2 linked regions of the Homo sapiens genome follow. The protein of the gene in region 1 purifies or fractionates together with the protein of each later gene. This does not show direct contact. Each region holds a gene or a part of one and is shown on either strand. Other genes may lie near its edges.

What was found.
Region 2: the proteins of CNR2 (region 1) and COPB1 purify together in Homo sapiens (affinity purification with mass spectrometry; one large-scale study listed by BioGRID and IntAct). This does not show direct contact.

What each region holds. Positions count from the first base shown.
Region 1 is NC_000001.11:23,869,985-23,872,814, reverse strand, and holds the end of CNR2 (cannabinoid receptor 2), read left to right. Parts: 3' UTR 1-2,300; downstream 2,301-2,830. UniProt on the Homo sapiens protein: Heterotrimeric G protein-coupled receptor for endocannabinoid 2-arachidonoylglycerol mediating inhibition of adenylate cyclase. May function in inflammatory response, nociceptive transmission and bone homeostasis.
Region 2 is NC_000011.10:14,472,261-14,475,916, forward strand, and holds part of COPB1 (coatomer subunit beta), read right to left. Parts: coding exon 3,525-3,656; intron 2,356-3,524; coding exon 2,235-2,355; intron 1-2,234. UniProt on the Homo sapiens protein: The coatomer is a cytosolic protein complex that binds to dilysine motifs and reversibly associates with Golgi non-clathrin-coated vesicles, which further mediate biosynthetic protein transport from the ER, via the Golgi up to the trans Golgi network.

The DNA.
Region 1 (2,830 bases):
CAATAAACGGTAGGATAGACCTACCATGTGCCGGCTCACTTTTATTGAGCCTTTACTATGTGCCAGGCAGGGGGCTAAGTGTTTTTAAATGCCTTATTTCACTTCATGTTTCCCAACAACCTAATAAGAAGGTCTTAGTTATCTTCATTTTACAGATGTGGCAACCTCAAAGATGCAAAGTCACTTGTCTAAGGTCACCCTGCTAAGTACCAGAGCTGAGGTCTCCAACCTAGTTCTGTTTGACTTCAAAGCCTGCCCTCTTAACCACTAACCTTTTGTCCTAGTTCAGTCAAATTCTGCTTGATTATTGCTCATTAGGGATAATATTAGCTATCTGTAGCATCAGATTGCTGCAAAGTTAACTCATCGTAGATTCTCAATATACTCCATTTTATTAAATGGCCCCGTATTAATCTCCTGTAATAAATTTCACAAATCCAGTGGCTTATCAACAGAAATTTACTGTCTCATAATTCTGGAGGCCAGAAGTCAAAATCAAGATGTGGTAGGGCCCTGCTCCCTCCAAAAGTTTAAGGGGAGAATTATTCCTTGACTCTTTCAACTTCTGGCAGTCCCTGTCATTCCTTGGCTTGTGGAAACATCACTCCTACCTCTGACTCTGTCTTCATATGGCATTTCCTCTGTGTCTCTTGGTGTCTTTTTTTTTTTTTTTTTTTTTTTTGAGACGGAATCTCATTCTGTTGTCCAGGCAGGAGTGCAGTGACATGATCTTGGCTCACTGCAACCTCCACCTCTCAGGTTCAAGTGATTCTCCTGCCTCAGCCTCCCAAATAGCTGGGACTACAGGCACCCGCCACCACACTCAGCTAATTTTTGTATTTTTAGTAGAGATGGGGTTTCACCATCTTGCCCAGGCTGGTCTTGAACTCCTGACCTCAAGTGATCCGCCCACCTTGGCCTCCTAAATTGCTGGGATTACAGACGTGAGCCACCATACCCGGCCTGGTGTCTTTTTTAAAGAATATCAGTCACTGGATTTGGGCCCACCCTAATCCTAATAGTATGACTTCATCTTAATTTAACCAATTATATCTGTAGAGACCCTGTTTCCAAATAAGGTCACATTCACAGATTCCAGGTGGACAAGAAGTTTAGGCGGACACTATTCAACTCAGTACAGACCCAGGAACAAAGTCCACCCACTGGGCTGTGTTGAGTGGCAGTCACTAGTTTATCCTCCCTCAACAAGATGAGCTCCAGGTTGACCTCTGCATCCCCAGTGCTCAGTCAGGACCCAGCAGAGCATCTGAAGGGATCTGGTCAATATGTGTGGAACTGAACTGTTTCTGAAAAGCTCTGACGTATGTTTTGGAAAATCAAATCTTGTTTTAATCCAGACACCAATCTTTTTGTAAGGCAAACAAGTAGCATAAATGTTTAAAAGTGAATTTGCATGTTTATATACTGTCATTCCTTAAAGTTGAAGCATGCCTTTCTTTATTCATCGGTGGAATCCTTTCTCATTTTGGCAAAGAAAATGCCCAAGTGCCTGGCACAAACAAGCACTGAGTAAATACTTCTTGAATGAATAAAACTAGATTCTAAAAATCATTTGATCAAACGCAACTCCACACTTTCTACTTCTCTTCTTTTAGAACCACACTGTATTTCTGCTTTTTTTTTTTTTTTTTTTTTTTTTGACATAGAATCTCACTCTGTCACCCAGGTTGGAGTGCAGTGGCATGCAATCTTGGCTCACTGCAACCTCTGCCTCCTGGGTTCAAGCAGTTCTCCTGCCTTAGCCTCCCATGTAGCTGGGATTACAGGTACCCGCCACCATGCCCAGCTAATTTTTGTATTGTTAGTAGAGATGGAATTTCACCATATTGGCCAGGCTGGTCTTGAACTCCTGACTTCAAGTGATCCACCCACCTTAGCCTCCCAAAGTGCTAGGATTACAGGTGTGAGCCACCACTCCCAGCCCCTATGTCTGCTTTAAGTGGAGAAGCAGAGCTTATGAGGGAGGAGAACAAGGGTGCAAAAGGGACCTAGATATCACTGAGAACTGCCCTTGTTGTTTGGTTGAGGAAATGGGCCCAGACAGTGGACAAGACTTGCTCAGGGAGACAAACGAGATGGTGTCCAGTGCAACAAACCTAGGTTTCCTAACTTCCAGTTCTGTCCACTCTACATCAGTGCCTCTCACCTGTCCCTGCAGGTTCACATTTTGGTTATGTGGATAAGGAGAAATAAATTGAAGATCACAATGTCCCATTTTATCTTCCCCAAGACAAGCTCTGTAACATTAAAGACCACTATGCAAACCGATTACTAGAAAATGTGTGTGGATGGGTTCGGTTTTTTTCCTAAGGTGTTCATGCTTACTGTTTTGGGCAATATTTCAACATAATCTGGCAGAAAAAGAAACAGAAGATAAAGAAAATAGCTGTAGGCCGGGTGCAGTGGCTCATGCCTGTAATCCCAGCACTTTGGAAGGCTGAGGCTGGCGGATCACTTGAGGTCAGGAGTTCGAGACCAGCCTGGCCAACACGGCGAAACCCCATCTGTATTAAAAATACAAAAATTAGCCAGGCGTGGTGGCGTACCTGTAAACCCAGCTACTCGGGAGGCTGAGGCAGGAGAATGGCTTGAACCCAGGAGGTGGAGGTTGCAGTGAGCTGAGATTGCAGCACTGCATTCCAGCCTGGGCGACAGAGCAAGACTGCATCTCAAAAGAAAAGAAAAGAAAAAAGAAAAGAAAAGAAAAGAAAACAGCTGTGATTCAGCAATAGTCATTTTCTCTCCTTGTCACTGCCAGAGTGAGGAAGTGCTGGGTTCTGTCAACATAGGCTCTGACTTCTCATGAGGT
Region 2 (3,656 bases), on another chromosome or scaffold:
GAGCTCTTGGGTGACCAGCTAAATTGTCAATGAACAGTAATATTTTAAAAGGAGTCTTTTATTTCTGAGCAGTAGGTCTCAATGGTGAGCTTAAAATACTTAGTAAGCCATCCCGTAAAGAGGATGTGCTGACATCCAGGCTTTGTTGTTCCACTGACAGAGCACAGACAGAGTTGATTAAGCACAATTCTTAAGAGCCCTAGGATTTTCAAAATGGGAAATGAGCAATGGCTTCAACTTAAGTTACTGGTTGTATTAGCCCTTACCAAAAGAGTCAGCCTATCCTTTGAAGCTTTGAAGCCAGGCACCGACTTCTCTCTAGCTACCAAAGTCCTAGATGGCATCTTCTTCCAATATAAGGTTGTTTAGTCTACACTGAAAATCTGTTGTTTAGTGTGGTCACCTTCACCAATGATCTTGGCTAGATCTTCCAGATAACTTGCCACAGCTTCTCCATTAGGACTTGCTACTTCATGTCAAACTTTTACATTATGAAGACGGGCTTATTTCCTTAAACCTCATGAATCAACCTCTGCTAGCTTCAAACTCTTCTTCTGAAGCTTCCTAACCTCTCTCAGCCTTCATGGAATTGAAGAGAGTTAAGGTCTTAGTCTGGATTAGGCTTTTGGCTTAAGGGAATCTTGTGGCTGGTTTTATCTTCTATCCAGACCACTCAAACTTTCTATCAGCAATAAAGCTATTTCGCTTTCTTTCTTCTTCTTTTTTTTCCTCGAGACGGAGTCTTGTTCTGTCTCCCAGGCTGGAGTGCAGTGGTGTGATGTCAGCTCACTGCAACCTCTGCCTCCCATGTTCAAACAATTCTCCTGCCTCAGCCTCCCAAGTAGCTGGGAGTACAGGCGCCTGCCACCACACCTGGCTAATTTTTGTATTTTTAGTAGAGACAGGGTTTCACCATGTTGGCCAGGCTGGTCTCGAACTCCTGACCTCGTGATCCGCCTGTCTCGGGCCTCCCAAAGTGCTGGTGTGAGTCACCACGCCTGCCAAATGTTTCACTTTCTTATCATTCATGTGTTTACTGGAGTAGCACTTTTAATTTCCTTTAAGAGCATTTCCTTTGCATGCATAACTTGGCTACCTACTTGGCAAAAGCAGCCTAGCTTTTGGCTTAGCTCAGCTTTTGACATGCATTCCTTACTAAGTTTAATTATTTCTCACTTTTGATTTAAAGTGAAAGACATGTGACTCTTCCCTTCACTTAGAAGCCACTGTAGGATTATTAACCGGCCTAATTTCAATATTGTGGTATCTCAGGGAATAGAATAGGGAGGCCCAAGGAGGAAAGAGACGGGGTAACAGCCGGAACACACACAACAATTATTGATTACGTTTACTATTTTATATGGGAATGGTTCCTGGCATCCCAAAACAACTATGATAGTAACATTAAAGATCACTGATAACAGATCACCATAACAGATGTAATAATAATGAAAAAGTTTGAAATATTGTGAGAATTACCAAAATGTAACACAGAGATATGAAGTGAGCATATGCTTATTTGGAAAAATGATGCTAACAGACTTGCTCAACTCAGGGTTCCCACAAACCTTCATTTGTTTAAAAAAAAAAAAAAAAGCAATATGTGCAAAGTACAATAAAATGAAGTATGCCTGTAAATGCTATGTAAATAATTGTTACACTGCATTGTTTTCAACTTTCTATTATTTTTTACTGTTTATCATTTTTTAAAAAAGATATTTTCAATCCATAGTTGGTTGAATCTGCAGGTGCAGAAGCTGTGAATATGGAGGACCAACTGCATACCATTGTAAATGGGTGTTTGGTTAGAACGGTCAGAAGCTACAAAGCAGGCATGAACTACAGATGAGAATAACTTAAGAGACATTCTGGGATAAAACAGACAATGACCGAATGGATGCAGATGCTGGAGAGAAGGACATTTCCTTCACTGGTCCTGAACTAATCCCAGCAAACTGAGGTGACTTCATAAATCCTTTCTCTTCCACTGGAATAATCACATGACATTGTTATTGTATTACTTTGTCAATTTTCATTTTTTTAAAGCCCAAACAGAAGAGGAAGATACTTTATCAATTTTAGAGTAATATATTACTGTGTCCACTTCTGCTATTAAATCATAAACTCTTTCATGACAGAAACTTAGCATTAATTTTTGAGTCCCTCACTGTTCAATGCATATAGTAGGCACTCAATGTTTAATTGTTGGTTAAATGTAAAATAAATGAACTTACATTTTGCTTTTTCTTCTCCTGAACCAAAGCTACATAGCGCAATGCAATCTTGGTCAGAGTTGTGGCAAGGGAGGCAGCAACAAAGAAATCTCCATCCAGAAGGAATCCTCTCAAGGGAGGTCTGCAAAGCAACCAAGGAAAATCAAACCCACCAACTTGCTAAGCAGCATGCAGCTTCTGTATAAATGAATGATATAGGCCTATTAAACACTCTTATTACCATCCTTCAGTGATAAGGATACCTTAGCTAACTAACTCCTTAGCTCCCAGAAGAAAGAAGGAAAAAGAAAAATAATACATGACTTTAAAACTTATCTTTGGCCAGGTGCAGTGGCTCACACCTGTAATCCCAGCACTTTGGGAGGCCAAGGCGGGCGGATTACCTGAGGTCAGGAGTTCGAGGACAGCCTGGCCAACATGGTGAAACCCCGTCTCTACTAAAAATACAAAAATTAGCTGGGCATGGTGGCACAAACCTGTAATCCCAGCTACTCAGGAGATTGAGGCAGGAGAACTGCTTGAGCCCAGGAGACAGGTTGCAGTGAGCCATGATCGCGCCACTGCACTCTAGCGTGGCCGACAGAGCAAGACTCTGTGTCAAAAAAAAAAAAAAAAAAAAAAAAAAGAAAACTTATCTTTGAATGACACAAAAGCCATCAGAATATGGAAAGATACAATATTTAATTAGGGGCATACGTAATTGCAGCTAATGAAGTACCTCCGAATTCCAGCTTACCTGTTTATTTACTGGGTAAGCCTCAAATTCTTCTTCCATAAAATGGAGATAATATATTCTATCTCAAAGGCTTATTGTCAAGACTATATGAGACAAACTACTTAGCACAATGCCTAGCACTTAGTGGGTATTCAGTAAAATTTTAGGCAAAGATTTCACCATCTTCACCATTAAAATTTACTTAATAGAAAAATGCACAATTTTATTCCATCATTTAGAAATTGAAAAATCTTCAAAATGTTTTCAGATGCTAATAAACAACAAAACTCAAATATCTTCAGTTACCCCCACTTAGCATTTTCTGAGTAAAAATAATTTGAGTTTAAACAGAACAGTTATTTCCATAAAAACACTGGAAGGGACAGAGAATTAAAACCATCAATACAATTCCTAGGGGGAAGAACTTAAACATCCTCCGCTTCTCAAGTACCTTAAATGGCAAAGATTTTCATTTTGGTTGCAAAAGCAAGAGGAAAGAAATCATTTGACTGTCTTACATACAAGAGTAATAATAAAAGTAGTACAGCTGGCAGGGTATATGTGCCATAAATTACCTGTCTTCCTCTTTCTTGGTGGGTCTAGAACTGCTAAGGGCACTCTGAGTTGCATAGGTACCCATTTCAGTAACCAATTTCTGAACTGGCCCTACAGTTATTTCTTCTTCAGGTTTTAATTCACCAGCTTCT